Regions from separate parts of the Homo sapiens genome. Here all the other regions are reported to be linked to region 2. Evidence: microRNA targets listed by miRTarBase, many of them from high-throughput screens and not tested one by one. Region 2 holds a microRNA gene; each other region holds the end of a gene's coding sequence.
Evidence for each region. The annotated mature microRNA hsa-miR-30e-5p reads UGUAAACAUCCUUGACUGGAAG and lies in region 2 at 1,332-1,353, opposite strand. An mRNA with a match to its seed (bases 2 to 7 or 8) in the 3' UTR can be bound and repressed. Matches are read on the target gene's strand: a 7mer-m8 pairs with bases 2 to 8, a 7mer-A1 pairs with bases 2 to 7 and ends in A, and an 8mer does both.

Region 1 (4,374 bases), not on the chromosome of region 2:
AAGTGTTCAGAACTTTATAATTTATTAAAAGTGTTCAGAACTATATAATGGGAAAATAAGACCCATGGATTGAAGTTGTAGTGTTGTGGAAAAGAAAAGTTGCTTAAAAAAATGGTTGAGTTTGTTGGTTTTTTAAAAATTCAACTTTTTCATTAGGTGAGAACTAGGACAGTTGCTGAGTGTGTAGCATTCTACTATATGTGGAAGAAATCTGAACGTTATGATTACTTTGCTCAACAGACAAGATTTGGGAAAAAAAGATATAACCATCACCCTGGAGTTACGTAAGTACTGTGGCCTTGCCTTCAAAGACTTACTTTTAACTGTAATATATAGTCATAAAATTACTGGGGTGTGTTTTTCAGGGACTATATGGATCGTTTAGTAGATGAAACAGAAGCTTTGGGTGGGACGGTAAATGCTTCAGCCTTAACTTCTAACCGGCCTGAGCCTATTCCTGATCAACAGCTAAACATTCTCAACTCCTTCACTGCCAGTGACTTGACAGGTAAAATGAAGACCTTTCTGCATTTAGTACAGTTTGTTGCAAAATTGTGTCCTCTGTTTGATGTCATAGGACCACTTACTTAAACAATTTTCCATTCCTTTTTAGCTTTGACCAACAGTGTAGCAACCGTCTGCGACCCCACAGATGTGAATTGTTTGGATGATAGCTTTCCTCCACTGGGCAACACACCCCGTGGACAAGTTAATCATGTGCCTGTTGTAACAGAAGAGTTACTCACCCTGCCCAGCAATGGGGAAAGTGATTGTTTTAATTTATTTGAGACTGGATTTTATCACTCGGAGCTAAACCCTATGAACATGTGCAGTGAAGAGTCAGAGAGACCAGCAAAAAGATTGAAAATGGGCATTGCCGTCCCTGAATCCTTTATGAATGAAGTTTCTGTAAATAACCTGGGTGTGGACTTTGAAAATCACACACATCACATCACCAGTGCCAAAATGGCTGTTTCTGTGGCTGACTTTGGCAGTCTCTCTGCCAACGAGACCAATGGTTTCATCAGTGCCCATGCTCTGCATCAGCACGCGGCCCTACACTCTGAGTGACCTGAGTGAGGATCCCGGAACTGCGTGTGCAGCACCAGTAAACTTGAGGGGAGCTATCAGGTTTGCATAGTCTTTCACTGGAAGTTTGAACCTTTCTCACTATGACATCAGTGATGTCAGTATGTATAGAACTATATCTTGATTTATCAAGAGTATTTTCATTTTTCAATCCATAAATGTGGAAATGAACTATGATCAGCAGAGTTGGGAACTAAGATTGAACTCTGTGGTGCAGCTTTAAGCTCTGCTTCTCTCTTCCTCATCTCCCAATACCTCTTCCCCACTCCCTTCTTTTTCTATTCTTTTGTGTTCCCCACTGCCCTCACTCCCAATTTTAAAACCTGTAGACAGAGGCCACCAGCTCAAAACCAGCACAGATGTTCTGAACTGAATGGTGTGGCCTGTTTTTGTGTAAATTCCTTTTGCCGTAATGGATGCAGTGGAATAACAATGTTTACAGGTACCGATCCCGATCCCTGCTCAATGTAGCATTTTTTTGGTTTTATTTTCTTAATAAAAGCAGGGGTAGGTTTCTTTAAACTGCACAAACATGCAAGGATTTTTTAAAAATGGAAACTTCTCTCATGTTATTCAACTAGAGCACTTCAGTTTACAAAACAGCAAGTCCATCTTTATGGAAGCCAGCACAAGGAACTGTGTGCAAATAATGAAGACGCTTGCTTGGATCCTGTTTCAAAATTCTAGACCAGGGCTACCTTACACAGAATTGGTCATGTTACTGCCAGGAGATTTCTGTGTAACTTCATTTATTGGCTACAGTTTTGGCATTTGAAGATGTGGTACTCAGATGGGGTTTTGTCCACCATTGTCAAGATTGTAATCTTAAAAATCATACCAGTCATTGATAATTTAGTTTATCCTGAGGCAGTCGACTTGCAGAGGCACAGTCTACAAAGCCTAGGATGTTGCCACTCAATGGTTTACATTTTGGGACATCTTTTAAGTTGTTTGTAGCACTGCAGTTCAAAGTGTTAATATTTAGAGGGACTTCTAGATTTTATACCTAATGCAGTAGAACCTTGAAGTATATTTAAGCTTTTTTGTTAAGCTTGAACAGTTGGCAAGAATAATGTGAGTTCCTATCTGAAATAGAATGGTACATTACCACTTTTAAGTTTTAAAAATTGATAGATGTTCAGATGTATCTCAAACTCAGTTTTATTTTTATTCCAAATATTGTGAATGAGAAGCCATTGTCCTAAACTTTGGCCATTTTTGTGCTATAAACATGCATTTTTAAGTTATAAGGTGAATCAAACAATATGTAATACAGTATTAGGATGTAATCTTTGCTTTTGTAGTACTGTTAAAATAGAGAATTATGTTGTTTGCACCGTCTTAATTAAAATTCTTGATTTTTACTAGTTGCTTTGCAAAAAACAAATGTTTGGCTGCATTGCTAATATTTGTAAGTATAAGTTGCTTCAAGGTTGTGCTGATGAGTAGATAGGATGTAGTGATCTTAGTAGTGATTGAAAGGGAGGGTATTTATTATACAAACTGTGAACTGCAATGACATCCTTAGTTTTGGATGATGTGTATTCTTGTTTTTCTTTGCAGCATTTTAATGAAGATTGCTTTGAAGTGTTTACGCAGTAGCACATTAGTATAAAATTTAGTTTAGCACAGTGGACAAAAAGTAGTTAAATTAATAACTTAAAATCAGTCTCTAATTTATACATCTGAAGTATAGCATTCCTGTATGCACACAGTAAATAATGGGTAGCCTGGGCTCTGTGTTACTTTCTTGTATTTTTATCCAAGTTGTCAGCTTCTTATTGCTGTGTTGTTGTGCTAAACTTTGAACCTTATTTCTTTTATTAAAAATCAGTACACTTTCTATAATTTAGTAAGATACTGGCCATAATCTTCCATTGTTATAACCTTAATTTTCACTCTGGGTTTACAGTGGCTGGTCTGTATAAATAATTTACACAAAGATGACTGAATGCTAATACCAGTTGCACTTAAATGAACATGCCCATTCTCAGTAGCTGATGCAGTAATATATTCAGTTTATCTATGCATTGCTGGGGTCTTGATATAAGATGGAAACAGTGTTTCTTATCTAAAGTTTTGATTATCAGCAAGTTGAATGGACACTTTAGTTATTTAAATAAAGATTTTTGACCAAAATCCAGAAAATGGTATGAGAGAAAAATAAATTCCAGCTAGTTTAATAGATTTTTAAATGTCAATCTGATTTTAGCCTCTTAGAGAGTGCTAACTAGCTGGTAATGTTTACTTTTAATTCCTTGTTAAAATGAGGCAATAATTTGCAAGATTTTTGTATATAAGTGTAAATTCTTCATATCTTTTTAGATCTAATTCAATATTTTCTGACTACTTCTGCCATGTATAATACCATTTTTGTGCATGCTTGATGTGACATTCATAAATTGTACCACTATGACTTTATCCATGTAAAATAGCTATTTATTGAATTTTCTTTTAAAAGCTGGATTTACTGGGTTTTTTTTTTCTCTCAGTTTAAACATCTTAACAGAGAATTTGTTACTGTTTATTAAAAGAATTGCATTTGGAAGCAAGAAAACAACCGGATTTGCAATCATGTGAAGAAACAATAATGCCTTTATTATCAAGTGTTAAGCACAATTCTTATAACAAACTGTGATAAATTCTTTTTGTTTTTTTTTCCTTTGCCCCATTATTTTCTTATGAACAAACCAAAAATTCATGGTGAGCAGTTGCAGTGTTGGCTGATATATCTTTTATGTACAGGGAATTTGAAAAGGACAGTGGATTCATTTAGAAGTGTAACTGGTGCTGTGATTATAGCAATACATTTGTTAGTTGTACTTCATCTTTTTCATGCTAGCTTTTTAAATGTTTAGTTTTCCTCTTGTCATGGTCAGCTGCTGAATTTACTTGAAGGATGTAGAATACTGTTTAAAAAATACTAAAATTTGTACAATTAGATCAAAGAATTGTGCAATCATTTCCTTTTTAATTTTTAAAATGTTGAGGCTCATAAATATTTGAGAACATCAGATCTAATAGAGCATAGTGATACTATTTAATTTAACCAAAGTCTCTAGTGAATATTTCAACTTTGAATGTAAACTAACAAATAAACCTGACCACCAAGGAGATTGTTTGCCCAGAGTTTCAAAGCACATTGTCTACAAATGGAAATTGAAATAATTTATAAAATATTGACGTTACTATGTTTTTTAAAAAGTTCCTAATTTTTTCACTAAATGGAGGAAACTATTAGTTTTATTGTTAAATATGGTAGATATTAATATTCCTCTTAGATGA
Region 2 (4,374 bases):
AGGACAAGGCACAACTGTTCTCAAATCACTGGAATGGAAGAAGGCATATCTAAGGCTCTTCTGCATTATGAAGACTCATTCTGCCAATGGAGGTCAAGCCAGCAAGGAAATGATTATGCTTGGTTTAAAGAAATGGGTGAAAAGATAATGACATTTCAATGGGCAGGAACTTTCAACTCAATAGCTTTAGTGGGGCAGAAGTCAGGCCTCAACTACCTCCTACCTTCAAATAATCTTTACTTGCTTCTCTGAAGAACAAGCGAAACTCTCAAGTATCTTTGAGAAGTCAGGGCCTTGGACTCACAATTCAGTATTTCTGACTAGTTCCTTTTCCCAGCAGTGGGAGGTTGCCCCAAGTGGCAGAACAATGCTTTAATGACTGGATCAATCCAGAATGGGGCACTTGCTCAACTTTAGCAGTGGCCTCCCCAACTACAGGGCTTGCTCTTGGAATCTTTCCAGAAGCTGAGACTGACGAACAGTGCCAGAGAAGAGCAGCATCACATCCTAGGGCCATCTCTACAGTGTTGTGCAACCAGCCCTGACTGGAAAAAAGTACATTCGCTTTAGTAGCAAGAGTGAACTGCTGCCTCCTTCAGAAAGGGTGGGTTTTGGAGAGTAGGCGTTTTAAAGGACTTTAGGAGGTGCCAGCCAATTTGAAGCCTGGGAAAACTTCATGTCTACAGAGGATTAAAAATGCTATCTTAGAATTTCAGGCCAGCTTTCAGCAATCTCAACCTTTCAAAGGCCAGGCAGCAGCTGTCCCGAATACGATGCCAATCAATGCCTCGAACACCTACAAAGAACTAAATCCAAGCAACAAGAAGCTGTTTCAGCTAGACACACTTTAAAATCAGATGGATCATAGCATTTTGAGTCTGGCTAAGATGGAATAAGGAGCTGTATGACACCCCGAGAGACCCAGAAGCACTGAGGAATTTGGAGGAACTGACAGGATGTGACCCTTCTCTCCAGCCAGTGTATTCAGCAGGCAGCCCACAGAAAACAAGGAGTTAGCACAATGAGAGTGAGCAAGGCCTGATTTCATCACAGAGCTCACAATCTTGTTTTAAAGGGGGCTTCTGATAGACAAAAGGAGAAAACAATTTCAACAAGGAAAGCAGGTGTATGATACTCTTTGTTCTGAAGGAAGATAAATGGCCTGAGTTCTTGTTGTGACTTCTGAGAGAGGAGGGAAGGACCCCCAAGAGGAGGAATTGAGCCTGTGGGCACAAACCTGCAATGTTTCAAAGCCGGTGCGTAGCTGGGGACGACCGTGGCAGCCTGCCGCTGTAAACATCCGACTGAAAGCTCCTCTGAACACCTTACAGCTTCCAGTCAAGGATGTTTACAGTAGCAAAGACTGCCCAGAAAGAACGGAGACGCAGTGAGGCACACCCTACTCTAGTAAGGAGGTGACAGAGGGCTTGCTAATCCAAAGGCCCTCATGCAGGGTCAGAATTACAAATGTTCATTAGGATGCCCACTTCTCCTAGACTTTCTCTGACTGGTTATTAATACAGGCTGGGATGGGGAGAATGGCTGTCACTGAATGACTGCTTCTAAGGATAATATACTATGAAATAATTCATTAAAAATAAAGTTTTATATAACAAAGCAAGCAGAACAAGGCACAGCTTTGCTCCTGTGAGATTCTGCCACAATTTCCCAAGTGGCACCTAGTGAATCATGCAATCTGCATGCTTAAAACAATGAGCTCTAAAGGACAGAGGTCTATTACAATCACAATTAAGAGCTATATGCACCCAAGGTGCTGAAAAAACAACTAGTGTGACCTTTGGAGAGGGGCAGGCAGAAGAGACGGGAAGGCAGACGTTCATATTCTTTCTTGTGATTGCTTGCAAAACAGCTCAAGTGGTGGTTCTCAAATCTGACTGCACATTAAAAGCATCCAGGGAGTTTTAAAAGGTACTGATGCCTGGGCTCCATCATGAGATTCTGATTCAGCTGATGTGGGTTAGAGCCTGGGCGCTGATATTTTTAAAACCCCAACAGGTGATTCTAGTGTGCAGTCAGGGTACTATATAAAGATATAATGAACCACAATATAGAGGAAGAGAAAACATAGTCCATTCACTCCAAATGCCACTGTGCACATAGAGAAGCTGTTTCTTAAAAATCTAAAATCTATAACTTTCTGGGAATATTCTCCTATCCCAGATGAAGAGCTCTGATAGACTTCCTAAGATAACTTGAAATGAGCTTAACTTTACCATTTGTAACTAAAGTCTTTCATTTTCATTTTGTCTATTTTCACTGAAATACCACTTCGGAGGCACTGAGTTAAAAGTATCCAGAAATGAGTAACAGAAGGAGATGTTAAGAATGAATCTGGTCTAGAAACGAGAAGCAAAAGGAATAGCAAATGACTTGTGCTGAGAGAGAAGGAGCGTATCTGACACCAGTATACAAAGCGCTCTTCAGTCAGCAGCAACTGCAATCCCTTCACAGCTCACCTGACGCTTTGGAGGTTTCAGTTCATCTCTTGGAACAATATCGATGAGAAAATCAAACTGATCAAATTTTGTAATTGCCATGGCGATATCATTTCTCTGTAACAAAGAAGAGCGGTGTGAAAAATTAGCCTGGGGAGAAACTAGTTCACTTGGCTTTATACCCTCCAAGTAAGGTAAGACGACTTTTAAGCCAAACTAAACACCTACGGGCAAGTCTACAGCTGAAATAAGCACAGCCAAACTCATATACTTTAAATGATCAGACCTGGTGGGCAACCATCAACAAAAAAGAAAGAGATACATGTAACTCACACTGTAAAATGGGGTATCTGAGCCTCCAACCACTGCTACTCCTGCTTGATCCTCTCCCCGCGATTTTCAAATTACAAACCTAGTAATCTCAATTAGCAGGTTTCTGGTCATTCTGTGGGTTAGCAAAGTTAGGTTTATAATCTTTTTAAGGCCCTAAATAATATTTTCCCTTTGGTTCACAAGTATTGAATTAGGTAAAATCCTAATTCAATAACTTTTTGCAACATTTTCAAGTCACTGGATCTATATACACTAAGTTCTCACAAGCTATGATTTTTATTTGGGAATTCTAAATTGCAATACTTAAACCATGGGTTTATCATTGCAGTTCTGAATTCCCAAATAAAAAACATAGCTTGTGAGAATTCTGATATTCATAGTTTGTGCTATGAACAGCAGCAAGAGAGGTAAGAGAACACAGGAGTCAGAAGGCTAATGATACTGAAACCAAGACCTGCTCTAATGGGGGTTTCTCTCCAAGTGTGATACTTCCTTTCTTTGAATAATAAAATTAAAAGATTTTTACTAAAACCCAACATATTATGTATAGTTAAGATTTGTGTACTTTACTAAAGATTTAAAGCAAAAGGAAAAACAATATGAAAAAACACTGAACGCTAGTGAATGATATGCATGTTAAAGTATTTGGGCAAAGTAAACTTTACAATGCACTTAAAAACAGATTACTTGAAGGATGGATAGAGGGATAAACAGATATGAGAATAAAATAAGCATAGTAAAATGTTTATGGTAGAATCTAGGTTGTAAGTATACAGGTATTCACTGTAAACTTTGCTTATGTTTGAAATTTTTCATAATAAAATGCTGGGGAAAATGTTAACACACTAACAGAAATCCTTAGCAAACTCTATATACCACACCTTAAAAGGTGACTCATCGGACAAAACAGGAGAGGATGGAAATTTTTTTTTTCTTTCCCTTGTATCTGTGATGGCCCCAAGCCTCTGAAATGCAAAACTCTAGTCCGCCCTTCTTGCCAACCACGAGCTTGACGATAAACCCTCCCAACTGAAGCAGGGCCCATCTTAAGATTGCCAGAACTCATTTAAGATGACTACAATATAGTGTCACATTTTTTGATGTCATCTACTCAATCTATCTAAATGGCTCATTTATTGATGGAATAAAAGGGGAAAAAGAAAAATAATAAACATCTCCAGCATATAATAAAATATTCTAGAGTATTTTGGAAACATAGATATACTTAAGTTGGTCTTCCTAAAATTTTTATTTGCTTTTTAAATTCCCTGAGGCAGGAGGATCGCTTGAGCCAGGAGTTTCAAGACCAGCTCTGGGCAACATAGTAAGGCCTCATCTCTACAACAACAACAACAAAAATTTTAAGCCAGATATGGTGGCATGCACCTGTAGTCTCAGCTACTTGGGAGGCTGAGGTGGGAGGATCACTTGAGCCCAGGAGGTCGAGGCTGCAATGAGCTGTGATTGCGCCACTGCACTCCAGCCTAGGCCACAGAGTGAGACCCTATCTCAAAAAATAAAAAAGGAATATAGAAAGTTCCTTCTAGCCCTTTCCAGTCAATATCCTTCCCCACACTCCCCTAAA
Region 3 (4,306 bases), not on the chromosome of region 2:
GATGCTCATTAAAGCAGACCAGCACCACCTGGACCTGACGGCCCTCCCCACCCCAGAGTCAACCCCAACGCTGCAGCAGAAGCGGAAGCCCAGCCGCGGCAGCCGCGAGTGGGAGAGGAACCAGAACCTCATCAATGCCTGCACAAAGGACATGCCCCCCATGGGCTCCCCTGTGATTCCCACGGACCTGCCCCTGCGGGCCTCCCCCAGCCACATCCCCAGCGTGGTGGTCCTGCCCATCACGCAGCAGGGCTACCAGCATGAGTACGTGGACCAGCCCAAAATGAGCGAGGTGGCCCAGATGGCGCTGGAGGACCAGGCCGCCACACTGGAGTATAAGACCATCAAGGAACATCTCAGCAGCAAGAGTCCCAACCATGGGGTGAACCTTGTGGAGAACCTGGACAGCCTGCCCCCCAAAGTTCCACAGCGGGAGGCCTCCCTGGGTCCCCCGGGAGCCTCCCTGTCTCAGACCGGTCTAAGCAAGCGGCTGGAAATGCACCACTCCTCTTCCTACGGGGTTGACTATAAGAGGAGCTACCCCACGAACTCGCTCACGAGAAGCCACCAGGCCACCACTCTCAAAAGAAACAACACTAACTCCTCCAATTCCTCTCACCTCTCCAGAAACCAGAGCTTTGGCAGGGGAGACAACCCGCCGCCCGCCCCGCAGAGGGTGGACTCCATCCAGGTGCACAGCTCCCAGCCATCTGGCCAGGCCGTGACTGTCTCGAGGCAGCCCAGCCTCAACGCCTACAACTCACTGACAAGGTCGGGGCTGAAGCGTACGCCCTCGCTAAAGCCGGACGTACCCCCCAAACCATCCTTTGCTCCCCTTTCCACATCCATGAAGCCCAATGATGCGTGTACATAATCCCAGGGGGAGGGGGTCAGGTGTCGAACCAGCAGGCAAGGCGAGGTGCCCGCTCAGCTCAGCAAGGTTCTCAACTGCCTCGAGTACCCACCAGACCAAGAAGGCCTGCGGCAGAGCCGAGGACGCTGGGTCCTCCTCTCTGGGACACAGGGGTACTCACGAAAACTGGGCCGCGTGGTTTGGTGAAGGTTTGCAACGGCGGGGACTCACCTTCATTCTCTTCCTTCACTTTCCCCCACACCCTACAACAGGTCGGACCCACAAAAGACTTCAGTTATCATCACAAACATGAGCCAAAAGCACATACCTACCCCATCCCCCACCCCCACACACACACACACACACACATGCACACAACACATACACACACACGCACAGAGGTGAACAGAAACTGAAACATTTTGTCCACAACTTCACGGGACGTGGCCAGACTGGGTTTGCGTTCCAACCTGCAAAACACAAATACATTTTTTAAAATCAAGAAAATTTAAAAAGACAAAAAAAAAAGAATTCATTGATAATTCTAACTCAGACTTTAACAATGGCAGAAGTTTACTATGCGCAAATACTGTGAAATGCCCGCCAGTGTTACAGCTTTCTGTTGCAGCAGATAAATGCCATGTTGGGCAACTATGTCATAGATTTCTGCTCCTCCTCTCTTTTAATGAAATAACGTGACCGTTAACGCAAGTAACTCTTTATTTATTGTTCACCCTTTTTTTCCTTAAGGAAAGGACTCTTCCAAATATCATCCTATGAACAGCTCTTCAGAAAGCCCATTGAAAGTTAAACTATTTAACGTGAAATCCATTAACTGGAATAATTGAGTTTCTTTATTTTTACAATAAATTCACTGAGTAAATAAGTTGGAGCTGGAATTCTGAGCTTTGTGTTTGGACTGTCTGGTCTGTAGCTAAAGGAAAAAGTTAGGAGGGGAATATTTATTTAAATCTATCAGTTCATTGCCTGGTCAGGTCTCTGGCCTATAAACATGCAAAAAAACTAATTCATGTTAAAGTCCTTCCAGATCCTAATTTCTAAAGCAATCAGGAGAGAAAGCTTTTAGAATGGCACATCATATCTCATTGATGCCAACATGGTTTTGTCCATGGTTCTGACTTTCTGTGAAGGCACCAGCTTGCAATATGCCATCCCATTTCACCTTGCATGTGAGACAGCAAACAAAATCCACAAATGGTGTGAACTAATATGCTGGCTGCTACCTTGCATAAATTAATGATTTGATCACACGGGTTCTTCGTGGGGTTACATCTGTGAATAGCCTGTTTTCCACATGTAAATTTGTGCCTTACACCTTGAGTTGTGTACACTTGTAAACTCTTTATGATCAACTGTTCCCCCTTTTGAAATAAGTGCAGATATTTATTTAACCCTCCCTTCCCCACCCTCTGCCCCACTTCCAGCCCTCTGAAAGATTGGAGTCAAGCAGATGGAAGAATGCAGTGGTGATAGTTGTCATGCGACAGCCTGAGAACGCTGGGCAGCACCACACCCTCCAATTCACACTGCCTTCTAGTTGTGCCAACTGGAACCACCCTTTGGCTGTGCTGCGAAGCATGGACCCCAGTGTTGTTGTGGGTGTGTCAAATCCCCTTTCATCCTCAAGAGCTCCCTGCTTCCCTTAGATTATTTCAATACGGTGATATCCTTATTTGCTAGCAGAAAAGGGACTAACGTCCCATTCCTCTTTTCTGCTGCGTCCACTGGCTAGAGAGCAGGCGGTGCGCGGTTGGGCAGACACCTGGGAGGAGTCTCCAAGCCATGTGCACAGCACACACGTGCAGTGCACACAAAGAAATGACATGGAAATAGATGCAGGCAGGCTGGTCCCTGCTGTGATTAACGAGTAACTCCAAGTACAAGGCCGACCACAATGGATGCTGCAAAAACGTTGACTGGGGCAAAGGATTTTTTATTTTATTTTTTATTTTGTTAATTATGTTTTTAGGGGATGGGAGGTGGTGTGTGTTTTTCTCCTCTTGGTTTTCATTTGCTCAAGCACACAAAAGGGACTTTTGTTTACTCTATCATGAACAAAGGAACTGTCCACATACTGTAAACCATGAGCAGTGTTGTTGTTGTTTTTTTAAACAGTATATTTGGTGGTCTCTTTGTCTGCTTTTATTTCCAGTTCGATCTTCTGGGTTTAGTTTTGTCTTTAAAAAGAATTCAAAAAAAGACTGACAATGACAGTTTTGAGTTGGATAGTGAAAAAGTGGAGCCTCCATAATCAGTGTGGTTGCCTTCAGACCTGAGTACTTAGCTGAGGGTGGGTGAGAGCCCTTTGTTCCAAAAGTCCATTAGTTTTGCTGTTGTTTAGGAGTAGGTGGTTGTTGTTGTTTTTACTTTTTTTTTTTTTGGCTTTTGTAATGGAATCCATGTTCACATCCTGTGAACTCTGTCTCCTGAAACCCTGAAGTATTTCCTAGAACCTGAAATATTGTTTTCTTCCTTGAATTTTCTCTAGAAATGCAGAAATTAGGAAGGTGATGGGTCTGTATCCCCCTGCCCCCTTCTTTCCCATGCTTGACTCCCGAGAGTACTGGCAGTGCAGCACCCATCATTGACGTAAGCGGCTGTCTTGTCCAGTGTTTGTAGGCATCACTGCCTCAGCTGTTAAGGAGACCTGTGTCAAAACTTACATCCACATTCCTACACCCCCACAACCCATCACTTCTGGTGTTAACCCTAAAATACCCACATGTATTGAGCTGGTCTTCTGCATTTAAGTATTTCTCCCCAGTTTTTTTCCCCACTGTGTGTGGGGGGAGGGTCCATAAACCCGAGTGTGCCTTTGCTTTCCACCCTTGCTAGACACTGGTAGATGCAACAAACTCAGATTTATATTTGTTGTAAAGTTGTAAAAATATTGTGATGTCACCAATTTTCCTTCCATCTCCACATCCCCTAACATCTGATTCACGACTTAATGTATGTTGTAAGAAAAGAAAAAAGAAAAGAAAAAAAGGGAAAAAAGAAAAGCAAGGAAAAGGCTCTTTATTACTTAAAAGTAATAAAACCTGACTGTTCTATATTATCTTTTGTGTCCTGAATGCTTTTATTTATCTCTTAATTTTTCCTTTTTAAGCTGCTCTCCTCCCCACCCTTTGTGGGTATGATGCTACTCTTTCCTCCATTTGTATCTGGCTTCCAAAGCATACATAACGGTATAGTTTGATGTATTTGTTTGCAGTGTCCACACCCAGCCACCCCCACCCAAATTATTGACGTGTTTCTCTGCTCAAACCCAGCCTGGAGCAGGATTTTAGCAGAAGCCACCGGTAATTAAAAAGCAGAGCATGCATTGGCTCCTTCTATTCATTTTATGCATTTTCTTTTTATGGGCTTGTTCATCATCAAACATTTATGGTAGGCTTGATAGTTTAAGAGATCAAGGCTAGGATTTTAGTA
Region 4 (4,325 bases), not on the chromosome of region 2:
TTAACCAGTATTTCAGTCTTCTCTGCCCTTGCGCATGTTCTCCAGGATTCCCCCGGAGATTTACCATGGCTGTCTTTCTTTAATGGGAGATAATAGTTCTGTTTAATTTATTGAAAATATTTGTTAAACATCTAATTTCTGTGAGACGTTAAATGGAGATCGTTCATATTAAACTGATTGAAGAAGTTTGGAAAATAATTGAACTTACATATGTACCTTTGCCTTTTAAATTTTTTATTTTTTAAAATTTTCTTTCTCTAGTGTTCTTTTGAAGATGACAACATCCGTTCCTTATTAAAACCTTTAGAACTGGAACTACAAAAAACAGTGCATACATACTGTGGAAAAATTTACAAAATATTTATCAAACAACTAGCAAAAAGTGTAAGAGATCGTTATGCCAGATCACCAAAGGAAAAGTGATTCTTGGTGACTGCTTAATCAAATGGATGAAAACAAAGAATCAGAAGATAAGTGTGAAGGAATCGTCTTGGATGAAGTATTCAGGAAGGAATTACTCATCTCCAGAATAATTTTTTTTTTCCTAAAGAAGTTAAGTAAGCAGTATTTTCAGGTAATGAAGAATAAGTTAAAATCTTGGGCCTCAACATTGAACATTTTTTATCTCTGATGTTTTGTAATGTTACTTGCTATCATTCCAGTATTGATGAAAATACTATTGAATGGGTTTAACCTGCAGACTTCTGTTGACTCATACTCTCAAGAGTGGTAGGGGTGTGTAGATGGAGAAAATGTACCTCAAACAGTGCCAACACTCAAGACTGTGAGTAGAGCAATAATTTTATGTCAGCACTAACCTCACTTTAAAAGTGTGAGAAAAAAGTTTGTTTACAGGAGCAGAAACAGGTCTGTTGTTTCTGAAGAAATGTGATGTAACTGATGTAACCATTGACAATCTATGTGTGCCTTTATACATTTCATCTCTGTTTTAAAATATTTTTATGACAATCATGTTTAAAATTATTTTTAGATTACAAGTAAGCTGCATGTTAAAAATTGAGCTGTGTAAGGTAGAGGAAAAATAGTGAAAACTTTGGGATTTTAATCTGTGTGTGCGTGTTTGTGTGTGAGAGAGAGTGAGAAATGTAGTGTTTCATTTTGTATGCATTAAACTGTCTTGCCAAAACTCAGATCTAAGATTGTTAAATAGATATTTGGGGAATTTTTTTTTAATCACTTTAAATGAAAAACGTCAGCTTTACTGGGCATTCTGGAAGCAAAATATATTATGCTGATGGTAAAGTGAGAACCTTAAGAGTATACTCATGATGGTGGAAAGTGTGATGGACCAAAATGCATAAGCTATATACTTCCTGTGAGTAGTAATTTTAGTTACAATGGAGTAGAAAAATATGGTCCATTTAAACTTGTCTTCTACCTCATAACGGCCTTGCAAGATACTTTTGAAGAAGCAAATGTCTAGAGCCTTACTTTAAGTAAGTTAAACAACTTAAGTGGATGATTTGGAATAAGATTGTTACATCCAGCTGTAGAAAATGTGGTTTTAATTGGGTTGATGTGCATTTTTGAATATCACCTAAGACAGTTAATTTTTTTAAATCTTGAGAAATTACTTCTTTGGCATTCTTGACCTGTTAGCTAATATAACTATAGATTCTGAATACTTAGCATATACTATGCTGGGGCACATATCTTATTTTACCAACAATATGATTATCTATATGGTTATCTTCTTTTTCTCCCTGATATTTTAATGCTCAAGTAGAAAATGGAAAATCATGAAGGAAAAATACAACCTGTGAAAATTGTGGCAGTTAGCTTTGTGAAGACACAGTGACCTCTGTGGAGACATGGAATATGCAGAAAGAGATGGTTAGTACAGTTGTTCTGTCGTCTGCAGTTCAGTCAGGGACAAATTGAGAGAGGAAAGTTTAAGCAGGGTGCATTAGAAGTTGATAACCAGTCCAGCATTCTTAGAACAGATGGGTTTAGAGAACACGAGTTGTAGTTCCTTGGCAGAATGCCATGGTGAATATAAGAAACTGTGAAATTGAGCTTACTGAGTAGAAAATGAGAATACTAAAAATGTGAAGTTTGGAGGGTATGTATTAGATCATTTCTAATGGTCCTCAAATAATGATCATTGCCTGCCTGACTATGTAAGATTCTTGTTGGGAGCTTAAGAATAGATTCCTGAGCTAGGCCTTTGGAGACTCTGGCATGCTGTGTCTAGGAGGGAGTCTGTAAAACAATTTTTAATGAAGAAATTTAAAAATTACACAAAACTAGAATAGTGCATTGGTACTCAACATCCAGATCTGACACTTATCACTATCTTACCATGTTTGCTTCATTTGTCATTTTTTTGTTTGCTTAAGTATCTTAAAATCCCATACATTGTGTTATTTCACTGCTGTGAACACTTTGGGTAGATACCACGATATCACACCTAACAGAGGCAGCAGCAGTCCTTCGGCTTCATCTCATAGCCAGTCCTTAAGCAAATTTCCCTGATTATCTCAAAAATCATCTTCTAGTTGGTTTGTTAGAATCAACAGAATATAAGTCACATGATGATTTCGTTTTTAACAATCACCTCAGATGACTTTGATGTTAGCTACTTTGAGAACCACTGGAAATTATTTTGCCAACTTGAAAGTTCAAGTTAGGATACCACAATTCTTGGCACGTTTGGTGGATTATAAATGTGATTTTGAAATATTAGAGGAAGCATTTGGGGTTAATGACAGGATATGAATTTATATTAGTAAGTTTGATAAGATAAAATTTCCTCAGTGAACGGAGAATCTCAGCCCCATGGGCTCTAATTGATTGGGACTTGTGTAGAGCGTGGTCACAGTTTAATCCAACTGGACTGTATGCTGTGGTCTCACTCATGTTGTGGCTTATTTACACTGTCACACACACTACATTGTGGATCAGTTGGAAGGTTCTTCATCTGGTTTATTTAGACCTGACCTAATTGATCATTTTACCATAAATTGAATTATAGTGAAAACTGTCTTTTGGGTACTGTTTCTACCTAAAATTAAAGGTATCACAAAATATGTATAATAATTTTTAAATGAATTTTCTGAATTTATCTTTAGACAAGGTAATTCTTTTGAATTCTAAAGAAATGCAGTTCTTGGAGTTGATGAGAGGTTAAATTATAGATGGACAACTTAGAGAACGTATTCCATCTTCATATAAATGGTCTTTCATAAAACATAGTGTATCTATGCAGTTTATATAAACTACATGATTTATTATTTGAGTCTATGTATTCTGACCTCAGAACTATCTCTGGGCTACAGTATTACCAAAGTGGGATGCCTTTAAAATGCAGTCAAACTTCATTTGTATGAAGTAGAAAAGAACTTGGGAAACCTTTAAAAATATATATTGTGATTTATGCTTTAAGAAAATGCATACTTTTTTCTAATGAAGAGTAGTTCATAATATATAAGGGTTTTAAGGCCCTGAAATAACATTAGTGCTTACTCATTGCTCTCTCATCTTGCCTCCAGTCAGATGTTATTGGTATAGTGAAAAGAAGACCAGATTTTGAACTAGATCTGGATTCTCTTTTTAGTAACTCAGGCATGTTATTTACCCTTCTCTGTGCCTTAGGTTTTTAAGTACAATCAGTGTACCCTTCAAACCTCACAAGATGAAACTCAGAAGAGATAATGGATTTGGAAGCATTTTGCGTGGCTTATATTATGCCACGCCAGTGTTACTGTTGAAGTTCTGTTTTGTTCGTTGTTTTCTGTACAGAGCGTTCAGTTTACTCAGGCTGAATGTTTTCTGACATATATCTCCAGTATGAATTTGTTTATGTAAGGAAGAGTTTTTCAGGAAGAGAAAGTAGAGAAGAAAAGAATGATGTAACTAAATCAAAAAAGAAGGAAAAGAGAGGAAGTGAGAAAAGGGGTGAGGAAAGAGAAAGGAGTAAGAATGGGGATGGCAAAGGGCAGAGTAAGAGAAAAGATGGAATGAGTGTATGGAAAATTGAGAAGTAGAGATGGAGAGAAATGGTGTGGAAACATTTACTTTTTGAGTTGTAGCCCTCACACTACATCAGTTTGCTTGCCTGGGCTCTCTGGGGTCAGGAAAGGTGCTGACTTCCATGGAATGGGGCAGCAGGGCCTGCTGTATTTGGTTTGTTAGTACTAGAGTTGTTTCCCAATCACCCTACTCACTGATCATTTAGTGCCAATTCAACATTTTATGTCTTTTTTTTTTAGTGGATCCCAGTTTGTGAGCTAGGACCTGTGGAAATACAAGTATCTTCCTTTTTAACTTTATTGTTTTAGCCATCCCAAGTGTTAGACTGCAAG
Region 5 (4,374 bases), not on the chromosome of region 2:
CTTTGTCATCTTTCCTCCAGTTTTGGAAGGCTGAAGACATTGATACTCCAGCTTTGGCAAAACCCCTCAAAGTGGAAGTTGGCATCAGTGCACAGCTCACCTCCCAGGACTTTGCCTACACACAGGTACTGGGGTGAATATTTCTGACTCTCCTGCCGGGTCATGGATGCACTTACAAATGTGTTTTCAGTAAGAGGCTTAGCCTAGACCCTTAGTCTAGATCTCTAGCCCTTCATGTTGAAAGCCTTTTTTGATCAAAATTTATTGTGTCTTAAGACATTGCTTGAGGCCCCAAGAGCCATGTGGTCACATACATCTCTCTCTCTTCCCTGCTTACTGGGATCAGAAATACCTCTTAACAAGTCATCATTGACAATTTCTTGGCTGGTAGGCTCAGAAGCCCCAAATGATGCTTACATGTTTTGAAACCATCTACAGGTCCGGACTTTGCTTGAATACTTCTATTGACAAAGAGCTCACTCCATCAGCATTTCCTGTCCCATTTCAGCACCTGTGTTAGAAAGTTCTTCCTTACATGCTTCATGTTACCTAATACATTAAGCCATGCAGGGGACTAACGGAGCATAGCAATGTGGCCTGTTAAGGGTTCCAGGAGAAGAATGGAATTTCAGGCACATGGCACAGGATATTTCAGGCACAGGACATGTGGATGGAATTAAAAAGAACAGCAATGGGAAGGCTAGGAGAAGGGACCCAGTATTTATTAAGAAGTTGCTATCATGTGCTAAAAAAAAATCTAGGAGGTTAAATCAAATAAACTGATATGAAAGTGTCCATGAAATAAGTATTTTTATCTCTATTTATTCAGATGAAAAAAAATCAAGGCTTAATTTAAGTAACTTGTCCAAGGTCAAGGAGTTGACAAGTGGCTGAGCTGGAGTTCAGCATCTCAGACATCTTCCTTTGAATCCTTGCCTTCCTTGTGAATTTCAGATGACGGAGCATGACGGCTGCATGATTATGGGGTCACCGGGCCTGTCCTGGCCCTGAGGGACCAAGGATCAGAAGGGCAGAACCAACTCGCTCAGCTAGTGAAGTGCAATGGACATGATCTGTTCCTGGCTTACCCTCCGCTGGCCTTCAGGAGGTTTCTGAATGCACCAGGGGCCTAGAGAAGCAGCAACTGCTGGACTGTATTGCCAGGTAGCCAGTAGCGTGGGGCCCTGGAAGAGGCTGGAGGATACTGCGCTGTCACTGAGACACCTGCCCCAGGTCCTCCATCTCAGCCACTGCCCACAAACACAGCTCCACAGCCAGAAAGACCCAGCCACAGAAATGCCAGCAAACAACACCCCTGGCTCCCCACATCCCACGGTAAAGCTCCAAACGCTTGGAGCACACACAAGGCCTGACTCCAGGTCACCTTCTCTACTGGGACAGAAAGGGTGCCCTGGGGGTGGGGAAGGGCCTGGGGCTGGCAGAGCCAGGCTGTATTTGGGTCATTTTCCAGGAGGCCTGGGTTATTTCTAACACCCCCTCCTCCAAGAAGACAACTTTGCCTCCTGCCCCTTGAGGTTCTTCCTTCTTGTGGCATCCAGCATTTTCTCTGGTAACTGTTGTGGGTATTTTTTGCAGTTTGGGAAACTAAAAAATATAGAAAACTGCAAGAAATAATTACAGTCACCAATATGCTTGCCACTCAGAATCAAACACTGCCAGAGTTTTCCATATTGGCTTTTCTAGGCTTCTATATGCATCTATATCTAATCTGGATCTGTGGCTGGATCTATATCTGTAGCTATGTGTGTACCTGTATCTTGATCTATTGTGCTTTTGAAAGGAAAGTACGTACTCAAGTCCCCGGTGACCAGCACCCTCATGCTGACATCAGATGTCAAATGCAACTCCAGTTCAGGTCACTCTTCTACAGGGGATGTGTATCCTTTCTACCTTTTAAACATGTTGTTATAGACACGTTCTGAGGCATAGAAAATTTATAATTTGGGGGGACATTGTCTACACAAGTGAGGTTGGGCTGAGCCCATCATCCTGCAATGTGTTGTTTCATTCAATGGCGTATTTTTGGGCTCTGTTGAGGTTGACACACATGGATGCTGTTTGTTCCATTCAGAAACAGCCCAGGTGGCCAGGCCCTCAACTACGCTGAGGCATCCTGAACGGAAGGGCTGAAGAGACCGCCCTGGGGTCTCCACCCCCTACTGCAGCCAGACCTTCTGGGGCTGCCTTCCCTGGGGAGCCTCGAGCAGATGCTGAATGAGCTCCAGGAACTGAGGGCCACTGGACACCCGCCCCCACATGCCCCCAGCCCACACCACATCACAGTGTGCTCCCATCATTCACTGAGCGACAACAGGAGGCCACAGATGGAACAAAAAATTTGTTCCTTAGGCCGGAGGCCACAGGGTGACCTTGCTCCCAGCGAGGGAGGTTTGGGCCTGGGACTTCAGGTCCTCAGGAAGTTCCCTCAGCCCCGCAGGCCTCCTGATGCCAACATGACTCTGCCCCATGGGAGGCCAGGGCAGCCACTTCCTGGCTCTGCCTGTTTGGCCAACTGGCCTTTAGGAAGCCCCGCTCTCTGTCCCCCAATACTCCATGGGAGTTTCAGTGCCCAACGGGCACCTGACGAGCCTGGTATCTGCTGGGGACCAAGGGCTGTTTATCCTCCCTGGGACCTGGGGAGCTAAGGGTCAACACAGCCAGAAGCCTGCCCCCAGAACAGGACTCTTGTGGGTAGTGTAGACACACCCCAGCTCTGGCCCTCAAGGGAGATGTGAGCCGTGTGCTTTCTCTCTCCGGTCCTCCCTGAGGAACGCAGGGCCAGCTGCCCACTGTGGCGGCAGCTCGGGCCCAGTCACACTCCTTCACTGGTGATCTCCCTCCCCTGCAGGCCTCCTTCCACCTCCCAGACAAGCTGCTGGTGACCAGATTCCTGTCTCAGCGTTTGCTTATGTGAGATCTCTAACTCAGAACCCGTCCCTTCCTGGGTCCGGCTTCTGCTGGGAAGCCAGCCACCTGAGGTGGGGGCTGACGGGCTGGGTGGGGGCCCCGGACTGCACTGGGCTAGCAGATGCAGGGAGGCAGGGAGGGGGAGGCAGGCCATTTATTGAAGAACTGCTTGCAGACATGGACACACACAGCCATGGTAACCAGACGCCACCCTGGGGCCAGGGAGCACCCAGAAACAGCCCTGGGCTGCCAGCCCAGGCCTGGACATTTGCCCACCACGGGTGGAGGGCCTCTCTTGGCATCAACCATCCACGACCTCCTACGGCACCATCTCTCCTGCCAAGTTGCCCATGGGGGTCTCCAGGAAGAAAACCAGCCTTGGGGGATTCCAAGGCCCAGGGAGGGTGGGAAGCTGCCCACGCCCTCAGGCTGTGCCCAGTCTCATGCTCACCATTTCTTTCTATGGCCAAAGGGAAGTCGCTGGACGAGGGAGGTCCCTCTGCTGGGATGAGCAGCACAGCACGGCTGGGGCCCCAGGTCACAGAAATGGGTGCAGGGATCCTGGGACCTGGGCTGGATGGGCACCCGCTTTGGGATTTCCTCTGCTTCAGCCTGTGTATGGTCCAGGGAACAGTGTAGGAAGGGGCGTGGCATGGGGTGGGGCTGCCATGTCCGGGGCTTCTGCGTAGCCCAGCAAAGATGCTACAGGAGGAACAGGAGGAGAGGGCTGGGAGGGGTCTGGGGGAGGAGGAGGAGATGGGGCTGCAGTGAAGGCCTTGCTCATTGCAGGGGGTGTGGGAGGCCAGGCAGGGTCACCTCTGGCCCTGCAGAAAGAGGGACGGAAGTAGGCGGGCTCAGGCCTGCGCCTCCAGGGCACACACGTGCACACTGGGCAGGCAGAACCAAGAGGGTGGCAGCTCCTTGCTGGTGCTGTCCTCGTGGAACCGGATGTGGAGGAAGAAGTCTCCCGTGTAGAGGAAGAGGAGGGCCCCGAGGCAGGCCGACTGGCCGGACGGCTGCACCTGAGCAGGGAGGAGAAAGACACATCAGTCTGGTCAGCAGCAGGGGCCACCCAAAGCCACCAGGAATCCTGGGAATCTGCCTGGACATAGGTGTTATGGGGGAAGCGAGGGCCGCCCAGGCCTGGCTCCAGTGCCCCCTCCAGCAGGTCACTGCGCCTCTCCGAGCCAGTTTTCATCTTGGAAAGGAGCTGCCAATATTCCCATTCCTGAATTGTTTGGGGGCTCAGGGGGTCAGGAGTGTGGGAGGGTCAGGAGTGTGGGAGGGAGTGAGGGAGAGGTTGGGGCAGAGGGGAATGGAATGTTAGCCTGTGCTGGGGCCTGACAGTGAGGTGCTGAGAGGCAGCTTGAGAGGTAGGAGGTGGGAGGTGGGGGCTGAGGGCGTAGGGCTGGAGCCTTTCCGTGGAAGGAGCGGCAGGCACGGGAT
Region 6 (4,342 bases), not on the chromosome of region 2:
TCAGTAGACCTATGAAAATCTGTGAGGACTAGCTGTGTGTTGCAGGTCATTAATTATCTCTAAGCCTCAGTTAATTCATTTGTAAAAATGAAGCCACTAGTACCTGTCTTGCTGGACTGTTGTGAAGAATACATTAGTCAGTGTGTGAGAAATATCCTCACATGATGTCTTGCACATAAAGTGAACCATGACTATAAGTTTTTATTTTTTCTCATTTGTCTTTTTCAGTAGATTTGTAAGTACCTGTTTGGCCTTAGGCCTTTAGAGTATCATCATAGTATCAGATCAACTTAAGGCCTTCAGTTGTTTATTATAATGATATATGTAGATAATTTTTTTTCTAAATAACGTCTTACATAGGTTTTGAAAATATATATATTTCTAAAGTTTTAATTAAAAAAAATTTATAATTGAAACTTTTACTAGTTGTGTACCTGTCCCACCATGGTCATGAGGCATCTGGGGAGCAGCATTGTTGGGCTTTGTTTTTCCATCTGAATGGTAGAATTGGTGTTCCTGAGGGTGGGGAGCCAGGCTGTGTCTTTTTAGAGCTGAGTAAAACATGTTAGGATTCTAGTTATCCAGCTTTTAAGAACATGTTCTGTTGTTGACAGTATGCTAAGCTGGGCCTGAGTTTGGTGGTTCCAGGAGGGGGAATCAAGAAGAAATCACCTGCAACACCACAGGCCAAGCCTGATGGTGTCACTGCCACGGCTGCTGATGAAGAGGAAGATGAATACTCAGGAGGACTATGCTAGTATTTTGCTTGCTGAAAAGAAAAGGGAAACAAAGGTAAAATCCTGACATGCCATTTCAAGGACTTGGGAATAGATTAGGGATATCCGTACTTCATTACAGTCATGATTTTGGATCCTAATAAAGACTAGTTTTTAGTTACCATCTTCCCAAATCACTCATTGTATCCATTACCTGTGAAGCATATCTTTTTCTTTCCATAAGAGCTTTTCTAAGACACCAGCAGGAATTAACAGAAAATGTACTGTCATGTTTTAATACATTGATTAAAAAATTTGCAAGCCAAATTATACATAAATTATGTTCTAAACAAAAGGGGTAATAAGCATAGGTATTCTCTCTTGGACACTTGTAAGTTACTGTTAGTGAATTGTTTTTTACGTTTCATTTAATAATTGCTGCTAAAGGTGATGTTTACTGATAAATCATTTTAAAATTTTTTTGTTTTGAAAAGTAAATTTATCCCCCATGATGTTAGATACATTTAAATTATTAAGTCTTTTCAGAGATGAGATGGGGACAGGAAGTTATTTTGAGCCTTACAATATTATTTAGCCCAATAAAAGATGCATTGAAGCTCTTATATATTATGAGTTTGAAAAATTTTGAAGGTAGCATATTGAAGTGATCTATAAATATCTTCAGTCCTCTCTGAAGTGTGGGTATTTCTTCTATCTAAAAAATACATACAGTGACTGTCTTCAAATCTACTTGGTTCTTGACCAAATAGGAGCTAATGGGTAATGAATACCTTTTTGTTTGTTTGTTTGTTTGTTTTGTTTTTTGTTTTTTTTTTTAAGGGTCTCACTCTTTTGCCCAGGCTGGAGTGCAGTGGCACAATCACGGCTCCCAGGCTAATGTTTTTATTTTTAATTTGTAATTTTTTTTTTATTTTTTTTGTTGAGATGGAGTTGCTCCATGTTGCACAGGCTGTTCTCAAACTCCTAAGCTCAAGCCATCTGCCTGCCTTGGCCTCCCAAAGTGCTGGGATTGTAGACATAAGCCACCTCACCCAGCCTATGAATATCTTTCTAACATTGTAAGAATGAGGTAATGTTTCCATCAGTCTAATACAGATATATTTCTTCCCTCCAAAACAGTTTATTTTGATTGTTTATTTTATTTTGATTGTAACTCCGTCATAACTTGACATGGAAAATGCTATATACTATGAAAACTTAGCTGAAAGGGAAGAATTGTTTTAGAAAGACAATATTTAAAACACCGCACTGCCAATATATTGATCCTTTATAGTTATTTCCTAAAATGCTGTTTTCGAAACATTCCTTTTTCACCCTGTTGTGTGGCTTAGACCCATCTCGTAATCTGTTAATTGGAAAGAGGCTACAGACACCAGCAGTGTGCGTTCTGCAGGTACACGCTGCCAAAGTAATTCCTGCTCATCCATGCCCTGTCTCTGTCTCTTTTAGAGTCATACCTTATTTGAGTATAGGTTGCTTAATTTTGCTAGACTTCCTGAAAACACTAAGGTGGAGTATCAGAAGTGATTTTAGTCACAGTTCTGCGGGAGAGCTTAGAATAACATCCTCCTTTGGGAGGTGGTCTCGGGTGCGTGGATGTTGGTATACAGTCTTTATTGTAAGTCTGATACAAAATGCTAATAAATTTAATGTTTTTCTTCCTTAATTTATTGGCATAGTTCTTCAGGTAGCACCTCATTTTTATTAATGATATTGGGATTAACTATGAACAAGCTATATGTAGACATTTGCATTTAAGGACATTGCAGTGTTTCAAAGATCCCATCATTGCAGCTTGTATCCTTTAGATCCAATCGGAAACTTCTGGAGTCTTACATTAATGCTCATTTGAGCTAATTAGTAATCTGTTTAAACAGATTTGGCAATACTTTAAAGATACTGTAGACTATTTATGTATAGATAGATCATATTACCCATTAAAGTCTGGGGGAAAAAATTTTTTAATTTTACTCTTCTTATGTACTGAAAACTTTTTTTAAAAAAGGTGATGATGAAGTGCATTCTGTAGCAGCAGCGCAGCTATGCTTTAAACCACACAAAAGGCTGTGTCCAGGTGCAGCCTCCTTCACCCTTCCTGCCCACGGTGAGGATTGAATAACCAGGACTTGGGGATATTGTTTGTTGTCAGGGTTATTCTGTGTGGTAAGGAATATTTGTTTCACATTTATACATTTTCTTTTTCCACTCACGTAAGTTTCTATCTTGAGAGCATAGTCCAAAGTGCAAAACTTGGTGTTTACAAGGAAAATTGTCTTCCAGAACTCCACTGTCATCACTTTCACCAAAGTGGAAGTTTGCATGAATATGCTCAGAATCTAATATTCAATGTTCTGTTACATTGTAAGTGAAGTCCAGCTACAAAATAGATTTAATATATTGAATTTATTTGTACATATGCAGAGTACGGTATTTCTGTATGGAATCTGCTTTATTCCTATTTTTCCCAACTCTGATGAGTAGAATATTAAATGTGTTGTTATGGAAATACAGATTATTGCTTCTATAGGAAGATAATTATGAAAATAAAACCTGAAACTATATAAATATAATTGTTCTTTGTATTATTTATTTTGTTTAGCTTGTTTTAATTTTCTTTTTTCCAGGGACACATTCTCTTAATTATATGACTTCAGCATTATTTTACAAGGACAGTATTTTGTTATCTGCAGTTGTCTTTTCTGCTCTTTGGGAGTAAGGTACCTTTGGGAATTTAAACTGTTTGAGCTTCTTAAAATACCAGTCATTCAGTTATTGTAATACTACATATACTGCTGTTTGGTGAGATGAAAGACTAATACCTCTTCCAAGAGAGTAATTCTTTGATTGGGTTAAGTGAGATAAAACCATGTATGATTAGGAGGCTAAGAGAACTGATGTGAAATTGTTTACATAATTAGCACCTTAAATACTAGCAGATTTACTTACAATCAGACATTTATTGGATGCTAACTATGTAATATTATCCCTGTCTTTCATGGAATGGAAATTAATAATATAATTTGATACCTGGATTCAGGAGAAGTTGAAGTAAGAAAGAATGCAGAACGAGTGGCTGTTGGACATCGTGTGATTTTGTGTTTCTTCCAGGACACCTTGGAGTGTCTTGAATGTGGTTTGTGGTCACTATTGTGTTTGTAGCAGCAAGAGGAGATAGCCAGGAAGGATAAGCAAAGTCCACCTGCTGCTGTCACCCCTCGTGTTGCTTTCATTCGACTCATCAAGAAACCCTCAATAATGACTTTAATGTGATGAGTTAAATTTAAGGATATTAAAAACGTCTTGAAGGTAAGAAGGACTGAGGCAAACACCAATTTTGAAAAAGGAAAACAAACTTTCCACTGAATTGTTTTTATTCCAACAAGGTTTTGTGCATAGAAACAACTTACATGGCTTTTAATTAATACTCAAGGACACTGAATAAAATGCCGTTAGATAATTACCTCCACTTCACAAACTTGGCTAATTAGCTCCCATAGAGTTACATTACCTTGATAGTTTTTTAATATCTGACTCTCTTAAATTTTTCAAGGAGCCTAATTTAAACAGCCTTAAAACTTTAAAAAATTTTTCCCACTACTTAAGTA
Region 7 (4,315 bases), not on the chromosome of region 2:
CACCCAGAGGGCAGAGAGAGTATGGAGCACCCCCACAGTATAGTAGGTCTGGGCTGGAGCCCAAAGATTTGCATTCCTAACAAGTTCACAGGTTATACCAATGCTGCAGGTCTGGAACCATGCTTTGAGAACCACAGCTGTTAACATATATGCTCTACCTTATAATTTCATCTCTTATTTGTATTGTCTAGAAATAGTCCTGAATTATTCTTAGCGTATCAGTCTGTCTTCTCGACCAGATTTCAATTCCTGCAGTGGCAGAGGTTGTATATATTTTCTACCACATCAATTAGCATTATTGGACACATAGTCTACTAAGTACTTATACACTGGGAAGAGCTTCAGAGAACTTGAATTCTTCAAGGAGACAGGGATCAACTATGGTTAATTATAGGATTTCCACATTTTGCAAAAGATCATCTAATTTTTCCTCATCATTCATATTTGCAGAGAAAAGTCTTCATTTCCTTGAGCAATATCCTAATCTCATTAAAGAAACACTCCAGTCTTGATTTAGGAAAAAAAGATTCATTCCTTCATCCTTCCAAATAAGGTACAGTACAACTCAATAACAATGCACATTACTGAAAAACACAATTGCGTCTTATATTGCTCACTACTCTTTAAGTATAATTCAGATATTAAGGAAAATAACTGCTAATCACATTAACACATTACAGAAATCAAAATTAACTTACCACACAAAATAAATTAAAACATTAAATATTAACCTTTTCAGTGCAACATATACAGACATCAGAGTAAGGAGTTCTAAAAAAAAGCATCAGGTTTATTATAATAAAGATAATGAAAAGTTGACCATTTTAGTAAATTATTAAGACTAAGAAGAGGAGTTGCTTTTTCAGTACTCTCTCTCTCTCTGTGTGAACCACTAGATCTTTCAGAAAGCCTGGTAAATCAATGGCTAGAGAGAACAGGTCTTATGTTAGAACATTTAAAAATATACATGTTTGTCTTACTTCTGCAATGTGTTCTTGGTTTTGGGCATTTGAGTCATTCCTCCTTCTGTGACTGGGCAGGTTGGAAGAGATCAAAGCCCAGAACCAACTAGAGGGCAGGGGTCTCCTGAGCAGTGTTAGAGCCTCATTAGTCCATCCCGGCCAAATTGACTGAAAAAGCAACTGGTGACCCATGTGCCCTCGAAAACCTGGCTTGAAGATAACAGGCAGTTTTCTGTACCTGCAAAACACAATCCCTTGAGAAGCTCCAGAAGCACAAATTCTCCTCCCTTACCAGTGTGGGTGGGTGAGTGGCAATCCCATCTTTTTCTCCTTTCTCAGGGAAAAGAACTCTAGGGCCATTCTGCCCATCTCTCCTGCGGGGACACAATGGCCAGCCCATCCCTGGCTTGGTTCCACGTGTGTCCAGCCGGGGCCCTGTCTTCCAGATCAGGGTTGGCTGCTGTCTATCTTTCCATGTAGAAGAAAACATTTCCTGTCAGGATGCTTAAAAAAAGTCACAGCCTGTAGAGCAGTGGGAAAAATCCAGGCTCCATAAGAGTATTGGAGGCCTTTTAAAAAATGTTTGTTATTTTTTTAAATGGGGGCTTTTCATTGTCTCCTGAGCCATTGGAAACAGCGATGCTCCCCACTGCCAGGTGTGTGGCAGCTTACCAGGTCAGGATGTTAAATGATTCTCTAATTGTAGTGAACAATTCATTTTCTAAAGGGCAAGGAAACACAGGGAGCTTGCAGAGATGGATTAGAAGATGCATTTTTAACTTGAAATGGAGTATTTTTGCAGCTAACCAAAGACTACCATTGCCATTAAATGGCAGAGGGATCCAATGCTTATCAGTCATTTGATTTCTAGAAGAAAAATCCCCAAATAAGCCAGGCTGTTCTATCCTGAGGCATGGACAATGGTCCAACCAGGCTTGCATTGATGCAGCCTCTTTTTCAGACCTGCTGGTTTCCAAAGGACTGACTTGGAAGGCACTTCTAGGGAGGCGTATATGTGAGGCCTCTCACTGCATGTGTGTTACAGGCATAAGGATGAGGGCACTGGCAGGTGTGACTTGCTGGACCTAGGAACTAGAACATTCACAGACACTAAATCTCAAGTCTTCGCAGGGAACCTCTGCTTCCGCCATCTGTCCAGCCTCATTCCTACGCCTCTGCAAAGTCTCTTGGATGCTAACTACTGATTGATAGAGGTCTAAAAACCAGTGTCCGTTGATTGGTCTCTAAGCAGGATGCTACAGTCAAGCCTCAACCCACATATCTGGCCCAAGGGATGTAAACTTGAACTTATTTTAGTAATTTAAAAACCTGGAGCTGTGTCAACTACGTTGCTAGGGGGTCAGCTCTGAACAGATCCAAGTGCTTCAGGTGTGGCATTGTTAAATAAGAGTGCCAAAAATGAAGACACGGGTCATAGAATTGTCTGAATTATAAAAAAAAATAAAGAGAAAATTCATAGAAATTGTTCTTCCAGACCAAGGAAGAAGAATTAGGGGAAGACAAAATTCTCTGAAAATTTCAAGCCAATTTAACATATTTTAAATGTACCTTTCACGATGTAATAAGCTAGGTGCACTTAAGAGTTAATACATAGAAATCTTTCACTTTTCAGATATTAGTAGCATTTCCTCACATAAGGAGTTTATATATTATTTCTTCATTACTCTGTTTCCAAATTTTAATGAAAATTCCTAGGGATGAGCTATCCACTATGTATTTGAAGGGACCCACTGTTTCTCACAGGCAGGCCCCATGGGTCAGATGGACCCAGATGCTCAGGGGAACAATTGCTCCTTCTCTTGAGGGGAAAGGAAGACCCACATAGTGGAGGTGACTTGTTAGAGTTTTTGTTAATAAAGCCGGCATCCTGAATGGAAATGAGGAAAAAAAAATTACTGGAATAGTTTTCCTAGTGCTCGAAAATAAATAGCAAAGTTAAACTTCTCCTTTTAAAAATAAAGCAACAAACCAACCAAGCAACAAAATGGAAAATAAATGACTGGTCCCCCTTTCATGGATTTGGCCTGAAATGCCTATGGCTCGTGGCTAATGTTCTATTTCTAAACATACTTACCGAGGGCTCACGAGGAAGTGAACCCATTTAATCACTGAGCAGTACAATATGTATTGGGTTTATCCTGTGTAGACACACACACTCTTCCTCTCTCCCCAACAGAGGGGACAGATCCCTGCTGATGGATTTGCTAAGTTTTCTCCCAGAACGTATTGAGGCATTTACCGGCTTTGTGGCTTCAATGGCACCATTTCTGAACCCCTACCTTTATTCCTACCAGTAACCCAGCCTCTGGTTCCATCTCCGCACCCTGGAAGACTTTTCCCAAGCCTTAGCTGTCTTGAAGAGGCCAGACATTTCTAATCAGTATAGCTTTTCAGTCAGCAACACATACATCATTAATGTAGAAGTCTGAAGGGGTTTTATACTTTTTACATTGACTTAAGAGATTAAAAATAAAACCATTATCCATCTAATAAATAAGACATCATCTCCAAGGGTGGCGATAGCTTGGGATGGTCTTCAATGTCATGTGTCCATGGAAGATGTTGGGCTGGTTGAGGGTCTCGTGGTTAGAGGATACAGCTTCTCTTAAAGCTAGGGTCTTCATGTGATATTAAACAGTTTCCCCTCCTTCACTTTCTTCCCCAGTAGGCAAATGACAGAAAACAATAACTATAGAAATCTCCTGTGTTGGGCAGAATTCTGTTGTGGGGAGGTGGCCCATTAAAAAGAAATATATAGCCTGGAATCCATGGCTGGCAGAAGACAACTGCACACATGTGGACTCAGACACCAACTGCTGCACACACCTCACCTAGGTGAACAGGAGTCCGTCTCTTTGCAGTTCTTTTTTAACAAGTCTTGAAATCGTGGTCCGCTGATTTCTTCTCTAGGTCACACTGAATAACCCCAAGCAGACGGAGTTCTTGACAGAGTTTTGAAGGCCCACAAAAGGCTGCACAGGTGATTACAGGCCAAGTAGGAAGGTCTGTGGCACACCCAGGCATCTCTGGCAGTGCTGTCCTGAAGAAGCCTTTCTTTATTGATCTGCCACAGTCCACCTGGCCAAACTCCTCCTCTGGGCTCTTCAGACCACTGGCAGGAAGGAAAAACAGGTTAAGCACTGTGGGCCACACCCTGGCCACGTTGGGAAAATAAGCTTAGGAAAGAGACTTGGAGATGGCAGAGCCAATGTCACCAAGTTCTCTCGGGCAGTTAGGCCCGAGTCCAAATTCTGCTGGTTCAGTCTCAGGGACCGCAACCTCTGACCTAGTACTTTCAGTGCCAAAGGAAGCTAGAGAGACTGATTGAAAGT

Region 1: miRTarBase lists MIER3 as a target of hsa-miR-30e-5p. Seed matches in the 3' UTR shown: 8mer at 1,523-1,530, 7mer-A1 at 1,680-1,686, 7mer-A1 at 2,011-2,017, 7mer-m8 at 2,678-2,684, 7mer-A1 at 2,994-3,000 and 7mer-m8 at 3,331-3,337.
Region 3: the mRNA of SEMA6A is a reported target of hsa-miR-30e-5p. Seed matches in the 3' UTR shown: 7mer-m8 at 2,912-2,918.
Region 4: the mRNA of GXYLT1 is a reported target of hsa-miR-30e-5p. Seed matches in the 3' UTR shown: 8mer at 847-854.
Region 5: the mRNA of TRAPPC9 is a reported target of hsa-miR-30e-5p. The part of its 3' UTR that is shown has no 7-base or 8-base seed match.
Region 6: miRTarBase lists NAPG as a target of hsa-miR-30e-5p. Seed matches in the 3' UTR shown: 7mer-m8 at 1,168-1,174 and 8mer at 2,992-2,999.
Region 7: the mRNA of TGFA is a reported target of hsa-miR-30e-5p. Seed matches in the 3' UTR shown: 7mer-A1 at 2,258-2,264.

Annotation. Positions count from the first base shown.
Region 1 is chr5:56,919,825-56,924,198 of GRCh38, reverse strand. MIER3 (MIER family member 3) reads left to right here. Exons shown (of 13, transcript NM_001297599.2): 11 at 157-284; 12 at 366-508; 13 at 614-4,374. The coding sequence ends at 1,071. It also overlaps a transcript of SETD9 not described here. Among named protein-coding and RNA genes, the nearest start is that of SETD9, 12 kb to the right of the region's middle.
Region 2 is chr1:40,751,350-40,755,723 of GRCh38, reverse strand. It overlaps MIR30E (microRNA 30e), which reads right to left and starts at 1,369; the gene lies at 1,278-1,369. NFYC (nuclear transcription factor Y subunit gamma) reads right to left here. Exons shown (of 10, transcript NM_014223.5): 5 at 2,478-2,573.
Region 3 is chr5:116,443,181-116,447,486 of GRCh38, reverse strand. It overlaps SEMA6A (semaphorin 6A), which reads left to right. Exons shown (of 19, transcript NM_020796.5): 19 at 1-3,932. The coding sequence ends at 874. Among named protein-coding and RNA genes, the nearest start is that of SEMA6A-AS1, 2.2 kb to the left of the region's middle.
Region 4 is chr12:42,083,884-42,088,208 of GRCh38, reverse strand. GXYLT1 (glucoside xylosyltransferase 1) reads left to right here. Exons shown (of 8, transcript NM_173601.2): 8 at 262-4,325. The coding sequence ends at 423. It also overlaps the pseudogene LOC101929308. Among named protein-coding and RNA genes, the nearest start is that of GXYLT1, 59 kb to the left of the region's middle.
Region 5 is chr8:139,727,279-139,731,652 of GRCh38, forward strand. TRAPPC9 (trafficking protein particle complex subunit 9) reads right to left here. Exons shown (of 23, transcript NM_001160372.4): 23 at 447-3,950. The coding sequence ends at 3,783. Among named protein-coding and RNA genes, the nearest start is that of KCNK9, 26 kb to the left of the region's middle.
Region 6 is chr18:10,549,463-10,553,804 of GRCh38, forward strand. NAPG (NSF attachment protein gamma) reads left to right here. Exons shown (of 12, transcript NM_003826.3): 12 at 615-3,302. The coding sequence ends at 758. Among named protein-coding and RNA genes, the nearest start is that of NAPG, 26 kb to the left of the region's middle.
Region 7 is chr2:70,446,772-70,451,086 of GRCh38, forward strand. It overlaps TGFA (transforming growth factor alpha), which reads right to left. Exons shown (of 6, transcript NM_003236.4): 6 at 513-4,095. The coding sequence ends at 4,088. Among named protein-coding and RNA genes, the nearest start is that of TGFA-IT1, 33 kb to the right of the region's middle.